2 separate regions of the Homo sapiens genome follow, and region 1 is linked to region 2. A link means that fine-mapping ties the variant in region 2 to the expression of a gene that starts in the linked region. Tissue or cell type: nucleus accumbens. Region 2 holds a variant in brackets; the other region holds the start of a gene. All regions are shown on one strand. Distances are from middle to middle.

Evidence for each region. PIP is the estimated chance that this variant, and not a neighbour inherited with it, causes the effect.
Region 1: SLC25A34 starts here. The variant in region 2 is fine-mapped to the expression of SLC25A34 in nucleus accumbens (GTEx, PIP above 0.99).

The regions. Positions count from the first base shown.
Region 1 is chr1:15,732,910-15,741,010 of GRCh38, reverse strand. SLC25A34 (solute carrier family 25 member 34) reads right to left here and starts at 4,753. Exons shown (of 5, transcript NM_207348.3): 1 at 4,148-4,753; 2 at 3,017-3,082; 3 at 2,766-2,918; 4 at 2,283-2,417; 5 at 1-1,787. The coding sequence starts at 4,525. The coding sequence ends at 1,605. PLEKHM2 (pleckstrin homology and RUN domain containing M2) reads right to left here. Exons shown (of 20, transcript NM_015164.4): 20 at 6,242-7,214. The coding sequence ends at 7,077. SLC25A34-AS1 (SLC25A34 and TMEM82 antisense RNA 1) reads left to right here. Exons shown (of 2, transcript NR_149050.1): 2 at 789-960. RefSeq lists enhancers at 4,887-5,653, 5,654-6,419.
Region 2 is chr1:15,333,323-15,341,423 of GRCh38, reverse strand. FHAD1 (forkhead associated phosphopeptide binding domain 1) reads right to left here. Exons shown (of 34, transcript NM_001391957.1): 15 at 1,873-1,943. The region is part of intron 1 of FHAD1-AS1 (FHAD1 antisense RNA 1); the gene reads left to right. LOC124903851 (a long non-coding RNA gene) reads left to right here and starts at 498. Exons shown (of 3, transcript XR_007065480.1): 1 at 498-1,044; 2 at 2,461-2,628; 3 at 2,971-6,900. The variant G/A (reference allele first, on the strand shown) is at 3,893.

The DNA of each region.
Region 1 (8,101 bases), 400 kb before region 2:
GTGAGAGCCCTTAGATGATGTTGGCTGAGGCCAGGCGCGGTGGCTCACGCCTGTAATCCCAGCATTTTGGGAGGCCGAGGCGGGCGGCAAGGTCAGGCATTCAAGACCAGCCTGGCCAACACAGCGAAAGCCTGTCTCTACTAAAAATACAAAATTAGCTGGGCATGGTGGCGCACACCTATAGTCCCAGCAACTCGGGAGGCTGAGGCAGGAGAATCACTTGAACCTGGGAGGTGGAGGTTGTGGTGAGCCGAGATTGCACCACCGCACTCCAGCCTGGGCAACAAAGCGAGACTCCATCTCAAAAAAAAAGATGATGTTGGCTGAACTGCGGCCCCTGCAGAAGTGCATGTTGAAGTCCTACCCCCTAGTAGCTCAGGATGTGACTGTATATGGAGATAGGCTCTTGACAGAGATAATTAAGTTAAAATTGGGCCAAGTGAGGTGGCTCATGCCTGTAATCCCAGCACTTTGGGAGGCCAAGGCCAGTGGATCACTTGAGGTCAGGAGTTCGAGACCAGTCTGGCCAACATGGCAAAACCCCATCTCTACTAAAGATACAAAAATTGGCCGGGTGTGGTGGCACACACCTGTAATCCCAGCTACTCAGGAGGCTGGGGCAGGAGAATTGCTTGAACCTAGGAGGCCAAGGTTGCAGTGAACCGAGATCGTGCCACTGCACTCCAGCTTGGGTGGCAGAGTGAGACTTCATCTCAAAAAAAAAAAAAAAAATTAAAGTGGGGTCATGAGGGTGGGCCCTAAGCCAACATGATTTGTGTCCTTATAAGAGGAGGAGATCAGGACCCAGACGCACATCGAGGGACCACCATGTGCAGACACAGAGAGAAAGCAGCATCTGCAAGCCATGGACAGAGGCCTCAGAAGAAACCAGCCCACTGACACCTTGGTCTCCAGCATCCAGCCTCCAGAACTGTGAGAAAATACATTTCTATTGTCTAAGTCGCCCAGTCTGTGGTTCTTTGCTACAGCTTCTCCAGCAAATAAGGCAGGTGACGACGCCACAGCCTCCTGGTGCACCTCAGCCTTTGCCATGGTACAGTGACCCCTATGGGCAGTCCGGGCCCATGGGCCTGTCACAGTCACGCACTTGTCAAGCGCATAGGTCTAGGGTGAGCAGGGCTAAGCTCCAGTCCTGGCTCTGCCACTTCAAAATTGTGTGGCTGTGGTCAAAGCCCACCACTCTAGGCCTTGGCTTTCTAATGGTAAAAGAAGTAAAAGTGCCTGCCTCGTGCTGCTGTCTGAGGCCTAAGTGAGCCGATGTATGTAAGTTACTGGGCCTATGCCATGTGCACGCCCGCAGCAGTTGCTATAACTGAGCAAGGCTCTGGGATGTGGTGACCCAGTACGCAGTACAGAGAAGGAAGAGAACTGTCTGGAAGACAGAATGGGTGGTAACTTGAAGTGGATGCTCTGGACCTGGGTGGGCCAAGGGGCTGGATGGACCAGAGCTGTCCACACTCTCCCGGGACCTCTGGCAGGGCCTGGGCCCATGGCCCGCCCCGGGACAGCCAGTTGTCCTGGAGCAGGCTCTCACTTCCGGCCAAGTGCCGGCCGTGTCAGGACGTGGGGGTGAGGGCCGTCGTCTAGGTGCCCTTGTGCTGGGCCCGCCCAGCCAGTTTCCGAAGCTCGTCCCAGAAGAGCATGCTGAGGATGGTGTGGGGGCCCAGGCGCAGGTAGGCGGGGCCCAGGCCCTTGTAGAGTGCCAGGGGGCCCTCCTGCCGCCAGATCTTCACCATGCAGTCGGTGAGGCCCCCATAGAGCTGGCCCTGGGGAAAGACATGGGGTGAGTGTTACTACAGGGGCCTTGAGGCCCTGGCTGGCACCACATCTTGGCACACGGGTCAATTTCACCCCCACACACCCTATGGACAGCACCTTTGTATTGGACACACCTGTGAGGCTGCGGCGCCATGGGAAGGCTGTGGGGTCAGGCCTGAATTCCAGTTCTGGCTCCTCCCCTTACCAGCTGGGGGAACTCATGCAAGTCAGTTGATCTGTCTGAGCCTCAGCTTCCTCATCAGGAAGATGAATGTGATTATAAGGATGGAATAAAATCCAGATGTGAAAGTGCTTAGCCTGTGCCTGGGACCCGGGGGCTCAGCAAACAAGCCCAGTTAATGTGTTTGCATACCTGGCCTGTGTCTGCGTGTCTCTGGCTGTGCATGTGTGAGTGTGAGTGTGTGAGAGTGTGTGTGTGTGTGTGTGTGTTGGGGGGGTGCTCCCAGCTCCCCACGGTCTCCCCTAGACCCGCCCCTGCTCACCCTGCCAGCTGTGTCCACCGGCTGATTGTATAGCCGCGTGCTGACCACATCGAAGGGAGTCATGACGACAACCACGGCTATGCTGCTGATCATGCCCCCAGCCAGGGCCACCAGCCAGCTGTCCTCAGGGAGCCACTGTGGGGATGGCACAGGTGCTGATCCCTGCAACAGCTCTCTACCCACCCACGTCGTGCCCTCCCGGCCTCCTACCACACAGGGGCTAAAAGGGCTACAGAAAGGGGAGCAGATGAGGCCCCTCCAGCCATCCCCCAGCCCTGCCACCCTGAGCTCCTTCTCAGCTTTGGGGTTCACTGCTGACCCCACACTCCTGCTGGTACCAAGGGCCGGAGTCACGACTCTGAGGGCAGAGGCAGGGCCCCATCTGTTGCCACCCCCTGGTCTTCCCCGTGTGGAAGGAGGCAGGTGGCCCCCCTCAGTCCGGTGTGTCTCTGTGGATAGGCACAGGTGTCCCCAGCTCCTCACCTGTTGCTTCTGTACCCAGGCCTTGGCAGAGGCGAAGGTGGCCAGCTGGGCAGCTGAGCCCACCATGACTCGGGGCACAGCCCCACCAACGCCCTGCCACAGCCCCAAGAGCCCTTGCTGCCGCCAGATGGTCTCCAAGGCACCCAGGACAGTCTGTGGGGAGAGGGCACGGGGTCACTGGCCACCCCTGCCTAGGCTGGGAGCATGCCCAATCCATGCCCCCAGGGAGCTCTGAGAGTGGCAGGCCTCACCTGGTGATTGTGCTGGTGTCCCACGGCCACTGCGGCCACTGTCTGAGCTTGCAGCTGCGTTTTGATCTATGGGAGCAGAGAGGACACGGGTGTGGGGATGGAGCCTGGGAGAGCCAGGGTGAGCTGTGTGTGTTGAGGGCGCCCTGCCCCCGTGCCCCTGAAACTCACAGCTCCATGGTCCCGAGCCTGAAGCTTAGGGGTCAAGTGAAATAGGGTTGAGGTGCAGCTCTGGGGTTGGCCTGGGTTTTGCGTCTCAGTGTGACTTGGAGCAAGTTACTTAACCTTTTCTGGGCCTCAATTCTGTCACGGTTGGAAAGCTGTTCTGAGGATTAAGTGAGACAATGATCCTCCAGCACCAGCCAAGGGCAAGGCGAGCCTTTGCTCAAGGGGAGCTTTTTTTTTCTTTCTTTCCTTTTTTTTTTTTTGAGGCAGAGTCTTGCTGTGTTGCCCAGGCTGAAGTACAGTGCCATGATCTTGGCTCACTGCAAGCTCTGCCAACTGGGCTCAAGTGATTCTCCTGCCTCAGCCTCCCCGGTAGCTGGGATTACAGGCATGCATCACCACGCCCAGCTAATTTTTGTACTTTTTAGCAGAGACAGGGTTTCACCATGTTGACCATGCTGGTCTCAAACTCCTGACCTCAGGTGATCTGCCCGCCTCGGCCTCCCAAAGTGCTGGGATTACAGGCGTGAGCCACTGCACCCAGCCAAGGGTAGCTTTCTTCAAAACATTTTTTAATTTTTTATTTGTTTTGGGTGGCCCTGAGGCCCCCCTGCAGAGTGCACACGAGGCGGAGGCCCTCAAGGGTAGCTTTTATTCTTATCGTACATGAGGCCATGCGGGAAGAGAAGTAACCAAGCCAGGATTTGAGCCAGCACATCTGACACCCTCTGCCCCCTCCCCTGGCTCAGGACCAGTGGGGCAGGGACCGCAGGGGAGCATGGATCAGAGCAAGGCCCTGGGCCAAGGGGCAGATTCCAGGCTTGGGCTAGGATGTTCCAGGGAGCAGCCCCACCCCGGCTGCCCCACCCCACCCAGGTCCACTGAGCCCTGCCTTTGGAGGCTGCAGGGCCCCTGTGGGAGCTGGGTCATGGGATGGTGGAGGGTGGACGATGGAGACAAGCCACTCACCAGGTAAGCAGGGCTCCCCACGAAGGCTCCCAGTGCCCCCGCCACGGCTCCCGCAACCACGGTGCCACCTGGTTGCTGCGTGAGGCCAGCCTGGCACGCCAGGCTGTAGCAGTAGAAACGAACGCCATTCATGAGGCCTTGGTACAGAAGGCCGGCAGCCAGCCCCTTCTGCAGGCCCCACAGCCCGTCTGCTCGGGCCACAGCAGCGACAGAGGCTATGAAGCCATGGTAGGGCCGTGGGTAGGTGCCCCGGGCCTGCAGCTCCCCCTGCAGCTGCAGCCGCGTCTTCACCACCTCCAGGGGGTTGGTGAAGACACAGGCCAGGCAGCAGGCAGAAGCACCCAGCACCAGGTCCACTGCTGGGGGCACCGTCTCCATGGCCTCCGGGCCAGTGGCCTTCTGTGCCCGGGTCAGGGGCACGGCACAGGCCCTGTGGTGGTGGCGTTTAGGCTGTCTGTAACCTCGCAGGGCTACGGGGCTGGGGTTTGCAGGGGACCGAGGCCATGTCTAGAGGGTAAGGGTCCTGGTCTGACAGGCCTGTGGCTGCCTGGTGTCCCTGGTCTATCTCAGCAGTCCACCTGCTCTGCTCAGCTGTTCCAGCGGTCTGCCGGAGCCTGGGACGCGCCTCCGCCAGCTGCGACCAATCCCAGCTGCCTCTGTGCCCACACCTGCCAGCCGAGGGCGGGCCTGGACCCTGGGATCTGGGGGAAAGGTCACTTGGGACTGGAGGGAGAGCGTGGATAGGGAGAAGGTGCCAACCAGCCCAGGCACCTCCTCCTGGCCTCCCTCTGGCCCTGGGCAAAGGGCTGGCACCCCTGCCTTGCCTCTGGCTTAGCCTGTCCAGCTTTGGCAGAGCCCTAGGCAGGGGGCAAGTGACTGGGAGGTCCCTGGCATGGGGTACACGGCCAACTCCGCCCCTGCCCCACCCTGCCCCTGATATGCCCCTGGTGACTGACTTCCCCTTTCCAGGACTCAAGTCTTCAGTCTGGCTCCCACCGTCTATAGGCCCATGCTCAGCAGGGTCAGAAGTAGAGAAGGGCTCTGGAGCCCTGGGGAGCTGATTGGAATCCCAGGTGTGGCTCTCATGTGTGACCCCTGGGCAAGTCACTTCCTCTCAGAGCTTCAGTTTCTCTCATTTGTAAAATGGAGATACTGACATCCACTCCAGAAGGTTCTGTGGAGGACTGGCGATGAGAAGAGTGTGCCTAGGTCAGTGCTGCACCCGATAAAGGCACCCGCATCGCCTGCTCGCCCCCACCCCCACTGCCTCTGGCTCCTATGCCCCCCTCGCTGCTCCCAGGACTTCAGGGCACCTGGGTGAGTAGGACTTGAGGAGTGACCTTGGCTGGTAAGGACTTGCTGCCAGGCCTGCCCTGGGATGCCCTTTGTGCCCGCTGAGAAGAGAACGCCACCTGGGCCAGCTGTCAGGTGTGTCTGCTCAGGCTGGGGCCGGTACCAACATGCCCACCTTGGCCTCTGCCCCCAGACAGCTCTCTCCTGCCAGGCCACCCTCAGTCACCCAAGGCCCAGTCCAAACTAGAGGCAGAACCACCCAAGTTGGAGTCCCACACCCACCTCCCAGGGCCCACCCCTTCCCTCCCAGGCCCTTGAGGCAGCAATGCTGAGTGGCTTGAGGGCCTCAGGCTCCCGGCCTGGCAGGGTTGTCACCCTCTGGCCAGCCCTGGAGGGGACGGCGCAGCAAGAGGCAGCGAGGACAGCTTGGATTCTCCTGGGTTTGGGCACTCACCCCCGGGGCTGTGGAGGCAGGAGCGTCCTGCCCCGGGGTGGGCTGCAGATGGTGGGCGGCGGTGCAGACGTGCCCTGGGGCTTGAGCTGGTGGCTGCTCCTCCCCTGGCTGCTGCAGCAAACAGGAACAGGACGGAGGGCAAAGGTCGGGCCGAGAAACTCCCAGGGCCTGAGGGTCTGCAGACGGTGAGTCCGCCCGGCAGCGGTGGCTGATCTGGTTCTGCATGTCCCGTGTGTCCCTTGTGTCAGGCACAGGGCAGATGATGGAGGAAGGTTTGCAGAAAAGGGCCCAAGGGATTTGGAGAGCTCCCTTCCCCTACCCTGCTCAAAAAGGGCCAGTGACAAGCCTTGGCAATATAACATGTCTATTTTATTTTAAAAAACAAAACCCAAACCACCTGACCCCTTCCCCAGGAGGCTCTTGACGAAACTCTAGGGAAGGGCCTGGCTCCAGCCAAGCAGGGGACAGTCAGAAGATGTCAACATGGATGCCAGGCTGGTGGGCTCCGCCCTTCTCCAAGCCCCCCATCCACCCCCTTTGCTCCTCGGTGCTACAGGCACTGCCGGGTTGAGGGGACAGGCAGGGCAGGACTGTGGGCATGCAGAGCCTCCTGGCAGCCAGGGAGGGCTGCCCGCCCCCCTGCATCTGGCGAGGCAGGCAGCTGTGTGCGCAGTGATGGAGCTAGGAGGAGGAAACATGCGCAGACACCCCGTGTTCCCGCTTCCCCACGTGGCCAGGAGAGTGTTCAAACACGAACAAGGATGGCTGGGCACTCAGGGCCCCAGCCCCCAACCCAGGAGAGGAAGAGGGGGGTCCCGCCCTCCTGGTTCTTTTGTTCGTCCTTAGATGGATGGTGTTCTCGGTGCCACTCGGCAGAAATTCTGCAGACTGAGGCGGAGGCCCGGGAGGAGGGCGTGCATCCGCAGAGCCCACAGGGCTCGGACCCTCTGCCCCCAGCGACCTCCATTCGCTACCTGTCGGGCAGGATGCCCAGGGGTGCCGGGCACCTGATCTGGATCCCTGGAGTGGAGGGACCCTGTCTTAAGCCACACTCGGTGGTTCTGCCGCCCAGGGCAGGGGTGGACTGTAGGCTCCCGACAGCATGACAACAGCCGTGACAGTGTGCCTGCCGGCTGGCGTGCCTTCCTTTCCTGCCCACCAGGGACGCCAACCAGCTCTGCCTCAGCACCAGGGGTCTCGGGAGGCTCGGCCGCGGCAGAGACTGTCGCTCCGCTGCCAGGCGCTGTGGATGAGGCTCAAGGCATCCTCGAATTTCTTCTTGTTGGAGGCTTCCTGGATCGCCGTGTGGGGGAGGTCCACCTGTGTTGGGGCGTGCAGAGAACAGATGAGGGCCACTGAGGGCCACAGGAGTCTTCAGGGCTTGTGGGCACCAGGCCTGCCTCTGCCTTGGCCACGGAGCCCCTGTCAGGCCCTCCCCATCTCTCCCTGGGAACATCTTCCACGCTGCTAGTTTCTCCCGCTCTTCCAGGGGCTTGAGCTGAGGATGGGGTGGTGCCCCCCGAGCTCCCTCTTTCCTGGGAAGGCCCCAGCTCTCAGGATGGCCCAGCGAGGCAGGCGCTGCACTCTGTTTGGCTCTGCAGGGAGGTGTCTGTCCTGAGCTGTTCTCTGCCTCTAACTAGTCCAGGCTTCCACGGGGCTAGAGCGTAGCATGTGCTCAAAACCCGCTTGTGCAGGGCTCTCATGAGCACGCTCCCACACTGGCACTCAGCCTGGAGGGCAAGGAAGAGGGTACTGCCAATATTGTGTCCCCCCATCTGAGCACAGCTGGAGGTCCACCACAATTCGTGCTGTTTGATTGGAACTGAGGTCAGGAATTAAGCTTCTTGGGTTCTGTTTTCAGCTTTGGCCTCAGACTCACTGGGAGTCAGGGTTTTGTCCTTTTGATTCTAAGTTTTTGTGCCTGTCAGGTGTGTCTGCTCAGTCTGGGGCTGGCACCAACATGCCCACCTTGGCCTCTGCCCCCAGACAGCTCTCTCCTGCCAGGCCACCCTCAATCACCCAAGGCCCAGTCCAAACCAGAGGCAGAACCACCGGGGCTGGAGTCCCACACCCACCTCCCAGGGCCCACCCCTTCCCTCCCAGGCCCTTGAGGCAGCAATGCTGAGTGGCTTGAGGGCCTCGGGCTCCCAGCCTGGCAGGCTTGTGCGCAGCAAGAGACGGCAAGGACAGTGAGGACTCTTCTGGGT
Region 2 (8,101 bases):
TAGGTGTTCAGTAAGTGGTAGGTGGGTGTGAGGAAAAAAAGCAGTCATGTAGGAGCCAGGACGCTTGAACATTTGTCTTGATTCTTCACCCATTAGCTGTGTGACACTGAAATTGTCCTTATCTGAAAAATAAGGAGAAGGGACTAGACCAGGGGTTGACAAACTACAGCCCACAGGCCAAATCGGGCCCACTGCATACTTTTGTAAATAAGGTGGTGTTTTTGTTTTGTTTTGTTTTTTTTGAGATGGTGTCTTGCTCTGTCGCCCAGGCTGCAGTGCAGGGGCACAATCTTGGTTCCCCGCAACCTCTGCCTCCCGGGTTCAAGTGATTCTCCTGCCTCAGCCTCCTGAGTGGCTGAGATTACAGGTGCCCACCACCACACCTGGCTAATTTTGGTATTTTTAGTAGAGATGGGGTTTTACCATGTTGGCCAGGCTGGTCTCGAACTCCTGACCTCAGGTGATCCACCCGCCTCAGCCTCCCAAAGCGCTGGGATTACAGGCATGAGCCACCGTGCCCGCCGTAAATAAAGTTTTATTGGAACAGTGCCATGCTTATCATGTCCATTGCTTACATATTGTCTATGGCTACTTTCATTTTACCATAGCAGAGTGGAAGAGGTATGAATATGGTCTGCAAAGCATAAAATATTTACCATCTGGCCCTTTACAGAGAAAGTTGCCAATCCCTGGACTCAAGCCTCTGTGGCTGATTGGCATGGTGGTCCCTTCTTTACCCCACTCTATCCATGTCTAGGGCTATGTAACTTGCAGTGCCCGCCCATATTTTGCCTCCAGACACTGAACTCAGCCATGTGACTTGTTCTGGCCAATGGGATCTTAGCAGACATAACACAAGCAGAAGGTTGAAAAACACTATGTGATTGGGCCACTTTCTTTTATACCTCGTAGTCTCCATGAGAACAGCCTAGGCTTGCTTGCTGGGGGATGAGAGACACAGGGAGCTGAGTCACTCCAGCTGAGGCCAGTCTAGATCAACCAAAGGCCAGCTAACACCCAGACAAGTGGGTGGGCCCATCCAAGGTCAGCAGAGCCGCCTTGCCACTGACCCCAGACACGTGAGGAGTAAATAGCAATTGCTGAATGCCGCTGAAGTTTTGTGGTTGTTTATTATATAATACTATTATGGCAATAGCTATCAGAATGATATAACCCGTAAAGCTCATTTGCCTCTAGAATATTTCTTTTCTTTTAGTAATTCTGCTGCCTGTGCTATAGATAGCTGTACTTTGTCCACTGGATTTAGTAAACACAGTTTTCAAAATCTGATGGCATTAAGGCTGGTGCAGTGGCTCACGCCTGTAATCCCAGCACTTTGGGAAGCTGAGGTGGGTGGATCACTTGAGGTCAGGAGTTCAAGACCAGCCTGGCCAACATAATGAAACCCTGTCTCTACTAAAAATACAAAAATTAGCAACACATGGTGGCAGGCGCCTGTAATCCCAGCTACTCAGAAAGCTGAAGCAGGAGAATCACTTGAACCCGGGAGGCAGAGGTTGCAATGAGCCGAGATTGCACCACTGTACTCCAGTCTGGGCAACAGAGCGAGACTCAAAAAAAAAAAATCTGATGGCATTAAGTCTTCTGGGCCTTTGACAGAGGAAAACAAACAGTGTGGTTGGCCCAGGAGGCCAGAGGGCAGCACCCTGTCATTGTCCTTACCCTCCTGGGAGATCTTAGCCAACCTTTTCTGTACCTCTTTGTGTGCAAATGAAGAAATCATTTCACCTATTGGAGGGTGTGGACTGGACTAGCTGATAAAGAAAAAACAGGTTTCAAATGCACAGTGCTATATAAATGCCAACCAGGGGCCGAAATGAACTTTGGAAAAAAAGAAATTAAAAGAATTACCTGAAGTTCCTGGGCCTGGCTCATAAGTTTTTTATAATGTTCCAGAAGATATATCAGATACAAAGAGAACCCTTAAAAAAAGAGAAGCAGGAAGAATGTAAGTATCAATTCAACTCCAAAGCTTGCAGACAGGTGGATGAAAGCAACGTTGCCATCCCATCAAAACAACGTGAGCTGCCATCCAACCTGTGGTTTTAAAGTAGTTGATAAGCAGCCGGGCACGGTGGCTTAGGCTGGGCATGGAGGTTCACACCTGTAACCCCAGCACTTTGGGAGGCTGAGATGGGCAGATCACCTGAGGTCAGGAGCTCGAGACTAGCCTGGCTGGCCAGCGTGATAAAACCCCATCTCCACTAAAAATACAAAAACTAGCTGGGTGTGGTGGCGCATGTTTGTAATTCCAGCTACTTGGGAGGCTGAGGCATGAGAATCGCTTGAAACTGGAAGGCAGAGGTTGCAGTGAGCCCAGATTGTGCCACTGCATTCCCGCTCAGGTGACAGAGCGAGACTCAGTCTCAAAAAAATAAAAATAAAAATAAAGTAGTTGATAAGCCTTGGTTGAGCTCACATCCAACTTTCTTTTTGGAGGTGGAAAACAACCCATCAACAGAACACCTATTTACTGTCTACTGTGTGTGAAGCATGGTGCTGAGTGTGGGGGATGGTCTAAAGCCAAGACCTCCAGGGGCTTACAGTTCAGTCCGAAAGACAAGGTGTAAATGCCTGCTGGAAACATGCAGTGACCCCAGGTGGCATGTGAGTGACTGCTGAAGGAGAGGGGAGGGTGAGGGTGTCAGAGGAGGGGGAGATCATTCACCTGGAGTGAGCGAGTAAGACCACTTGGTTGAAGAACTACTGGGTGTGGATGCTGTTGGGTGGGCAGAATTCAGAGAGCCGGGGGAGGGCGCTTCAGAACAGGGGTGCGCGGGGCTGAATGATGACCCCCTACGATTCCAGGTCCGAATCCCTGGAACCTGTGGGTGTGACCGTACAGGGCAAAAAGAGCTTGGCAAATACGATTAAGTTAAGGATTTCGAGATGGGGTGTTATCCTGGATTATCTGGGTGGACCCAATGTCATCACATGGCTTCTTATAAGGAGACAGACGGAGGCTTGACCACAGACAGAGGGGAAGGTGATGTGATGGAAGCAGAGACTGGAAGATGCCACATCGCTGGCTTTGAAGATGGAGGAAGGGGCCATGAGCCAAGGAATGCAAGGAATGAAGCTCTAGAGGCTGAAGAAGGCCAGGAAACGGATACTGCTCTAGAGCCTCCGGAAGGAACTTTAGCCCAGTGAAACTGAATTAATCCTGAATGCTAAGAGAATAATGTGTTGTTTTAAGCCAGTCTCTTGTGGTCATTTGTTACAATAGTCACAGGAAGCCACAGTTTCACACCGGGATGTGGGGGTGGTGGGGGTGGGATTTGGAAAAGGCAGTGCTCCTCCCGGGAAGTGCTGAGCTTACTTGGGCTGGAGTAGATGATGGGAGAGGGAGGAGCAGACAGTGGAGGAGGCATGGAAGGGTGAGGTCAAGCCGTGACACTCCTGAAACCGTCGGCTTGAGAGAGGAAACTTGATTTAAACATGACTGAAATGTGCCCAGTGGGTCCCCAATTTATAGATGAGGCAGTGGCGTTCTGAGACGCAGGCCTGCCCAACGCCACACAGCAGGCCAGTGGTTGAGCCAAGACTAATTGGTGTGACTCGAGGTCTGAGTCACTCCTATTCCAGCGGCTGACAGAACAGTGAAGTGGCCTGATGAAGAGCGTTGTTTTTTTTTTTAAAGAAAAATAGCTGGGCTGCATTCGAGAGGCTGGAGCTGGCAGGGTTTCTTTGCTGGAGCACTGCTGCTATGTCGGGCCGTATTGCTGGTATTGCACTGCTGATATTGTCAAGTCTTTGCTGTTGGGGCTGTCTTAGGCATTGTGGGATGGTTAGTAGCATTCCTGGTCTCTACCCACTGGATGCCAGGGGCACCCCTACTCACCCCACCCCAGTTTTGACAACCAAAAATGTC[G/A]CCAGACGATCCTGGATGTTGCCTGTGATAAGCTCCCCTCCTCTGAGTGAGAGGCAGGGAGCTCCGCTAAGGGCCCGAGAGACGCCCAGGTATTCAGTGCTGATCCTCTAACTGAGGGTGGGAGAAGTGAGGATGAGAGGGAAGAAAGGGAAAGCCTTTTAAAGGGGTAGAATGGTGGCCTCGTCATCAGACGGGAGAGAGACAGGTTGGGGTTGCGGTGGGGTGTGGCAGGGAGAGAGAAGGAGCCCCCAGGCTGTTTCAGACATGCTGAATTTGAGGCACTGGCAGGACTCTGGGGAGGGAGGGTCAGCAGAGAGCCGGACATGCCAATCGGTAATGCCGGCCCAGCCCAGCCCATCCAGGGTCCTTGTGTGAATGAAGAAAGAGGCCCCCTTCCTCCTGGTGGCCATGGCCCCTGGCCAGGGACCCCACCTACTGCCTTGGCTGGACTCCCTGCACCACTTTCCTGGCAGCCCCTCCTGCAGAGGCGTCCGTGTGGAAAACACATAGGAGTGGCTGGGGAAGCCCGGAAGTGCAGAGTTTCTTCATGAGAAAGGAGATGGGGTGGACCAAGGGCTGACTGCACAGGAGAAAACACCCTCGTTAGGGATAGGAGTTGGTGAAGGGGGCTGCTGGGAATGAATGGAAAAGATCAGGAGGGAAGCAGAGCGCCTAAAGGGTTTCAAAAAAGAGAATGAAGAGCGTTGGGCAGGTCAGAGACACAGTCCCCGAGAGGGTGGTGGCCTAGTCAGTGCTGCAGGGGGCCCGTGTCAGTTACTTGGCAGAAAGGCCAAGAAGCTGGCAATGAAGACCGAGGGTGCAACACGCTTCTTAAAGATCACAGGTGAAGACAGGAGTAAGAGCAATTGAAAAGGAGCGAAAGAAGCGATGGATTCCAGAGAAGAATGATTTTTTTCAGGATGGTACAGCCATCTTGAAGTGCCCCTTTGATGGCAAAGGGAAGGAACTAAGAGGAAAAGAAAGGCCGCTGACGCCAAAGAAAGAAGAATTTGTGCACAAGGTCCCTGGGAAGGAGAGGAAAGGGGAGACAGGGCAGGGTACGTGCTGCATGTAGGAGGAAGACCTAGTGGGGATAATGGAGGGAAGGAATAAAAGGTGGGCCAAGAGAGAAAAAGGAAGTGAGGAGAACATGTTCTTGTGTGGGGCAATGCACCATTCGGAGGATTTCCAGCACAGAAGCGTGAGAACAGCAATATTATAATAATAGCAGACCTGGTGCGTGCCAGTGCTATGCCAAGAGTTTGATACGTTTTTCTAATCATTATAAACAACCTGGTAAGGAAGTATGTTCATATTTATAGGTGAAACGACAGAAGCTCCCCAAGGTTAAGCTACAGAGCTGGTAAGTGTTAGAATCAGAATTCAGACCTAGATCTGTCAATCTCTTTTCAAAGGGTTTGGAGGCTTGAGAGTACAGGGTTGGGTTGGTGCGTTGGAGAGGTGCATTGCAAGGATACCAAGATGGCGGAGGAGGTGAGATGGCCGGGCTGACATTGGCTTGGCCCACTGGACCTGGTGAATACAGGGATTTGTGGAGGCTCTGTTGGGATGAGTCTGGGATTTTGCTCGGCTGCAACGTGTGACCCAGGAATCAAAGGGGAAGGATGAAATCATGGTTGGGATCTGAGGAGGACTAAGGGGAGAGGTAGCTGAGGATGCTGAAGGGGAGGCCAGTATTTGATCACATTTCTATTTCTAGATTAGATGACTAACTGTAATCATAATGGGGATTTTGCTCTTTGGGGGAAGGAACAAGTCTTTCTTATACTTCTGTTTACAAAAGTTATAAATGTTGGTTATAAAAACCCAAATGTTACAGAAATTCATAATGTGGGAAGTGTTTGCCACTGCGTCTTCATGTTCTGCACAGTGGCTGGCACACAGGGGCCCTCAATGAACAGTTGTTGAACAACTGAATGGAAGTCAAGGTCCAGTGCAATCCCACCCTGCTGGGATAATACTCCTAACAGTTTGATGTCTTTTTCTCAAGGTTGTTCTTTTGCTCAGATACTGACATTTAAAAAAAAAAAAAGCACACCAAGCATATTGTATTGCAACTTGCTTTCTTTTCAGTTAAAGACACAGTGTATCTTGGATAGTTGAGTGATTTGCCATGCATGCAAGAAGAGTCTTTTATTTGTAACAAAGTCTTGCAGAAATAGACACAAACGACGGAGCTTGCAGAGAAAAATGTAAAAAATCCTTTCCTTCCCTTATCAGAGGAACCCTGAGAAACCAGGCAGGAGGAGTATTCAGCTGACTTTCAAGGTGCCGCCTAAACATTCTTATCCTCCCAGCTGAACCACACAGCAAATCCTCCACCCTTCCGAACACACTGGACCCCAGCAGGCCTCACCTTGTGGGCTGCACGTGACATCTCCCAACAACACCACAAGTCATTTCCCTGACGTTTACCCCGCCTGGATTCCCCTGGGGGATTCGTTTCAGGATTTCCATCCTAGTTTGTGACGCGTGTTTTATCTCTTAGGAGGATGTTCTAAAAGGCAGGTAGCCTGGTGGTCAAGAGCAGGGAGTTTGAGGTTGGAGGGGCGTGGACTGAGTTGCAGCTTGGCCACTTGGCAGCCGGGACCCGAGGCCCACTGTCAGATTCTAAGGAGGAGGCCTCTAGAAAGGGCTCTTGGCTTCAACCCAACTGAGGGCTTAGGGCTAAAGAAACCCCATTTGCTGCTAAATGGAGACAGGGCAGAGGCTCCAGAGGATGTTACCTGGGTGCAAGTAAACCAGGCTATGCGGTCCACATGCCTACCTGCCTGGTGGCTACCCATGTTTAGGTCAGATGAAGTCAACCAGTATTTGAGGCTGACGATGACAGCAGCCCCCACCGATTACGAGCTAACTGTGACCAGCACTGCCATGCATGTATCCCATCACTCAGTCCTCATATGCCGCTAGGAGACTGGATGGCCATTTCACGAGCAAGTAAATGGAGGCGCAGCCACGTCACGTAACTGCCCACACAGCTAGTAGGTGCACAGCTGAAATTCAAGCCTTGGCAGTGGTACCCAGAGTCCCAGCTTGGAACATCACTGTGATACAAATGGGGCTTTCTGTGGTTATGGCTCAGGGTAGGAATCAGATGCGGTTTAGCTTAGGGAAAGACAACTCTTAGCTCTGTCACTGCCTGAGCCGATGACAGCACCCATTCTCTAGGGACTGGGCATGTGCCTGGTACATTGCTGCATTGTCAGAGGAAGTGTGTATGTGTGCAGGGGGTGGGGGTGAAGGGGCAGGGGGTCATAGGGAAGACACAGGTGTTAGGGTCACAAAGACCTCAGTTTGAGTCTTAACCCTAATGTACCAGCTGTGTGACTCTGGGCAACTTTTTAACGTTACTGTGTCTCAGTTTCTTTACTTTTCAAATGAAGGCTGGGCGCAGTGGCTCACGCTGGTAATACCAGCACTTTGGGAGTTGAGTGGGTTGATTGAGCCCAGGAATTTGAGACCAGTTTGGGCAACATGACGAAACCGCGTCTCTACAAAAAACACAAAAATTAGGTGGCGTGGTGGCACACGCCTGTAGTCCCAGCTACTTGGGAGGCTGAGGTGGAAGGATCGCTTGAGCCTGGGAGATGGAGATTGCAATGAGCTGAAATCATGCCACTGCACTCCAGTCTGGGCAACAACGCAAGACTTTTACTCAAAAAAAAAAAAAAAAAAAAAAAAAAGATAAATAAAATAAAGATGGTAATCATACCTGCCTCACTGGGTAGGTGGGAGGATAAAAGTACACAATGCGTGTGAAACACCGAACACAGTGCTAAATCCCCAGGAGGAGCTAAACAACCCATGCTTTCTACCCTTCTCTTAGGAGCTAGAAACGCAGGCAGCTCCTGGGAGTGTGCAGGATGGCGATGAATAGACTGGGGACTCCCTGTCAGCCTCTGTAACATGAAGTGCCTCAAATCACCTTATCCTGGTGGAGTAATGAGAAAACCAGCTTTGAGCCAGTTTCCTCATTTCTAAAATGAGGAAAATGGGCAAATTATTAACTCATAGAATTACTGTGAGGATGAAATGAGATCATGTGTATAAAATGCTGAGAACCGTATCTAGAATATAAGTCCTCAGTGATGAATGACTATCATCGTCACCATAATCACCATCATCACCATCATCATCGCCCTCCTCCTTCCTCCTCTTCCCTCCTCCTCCCCATCCTTCCTCCTC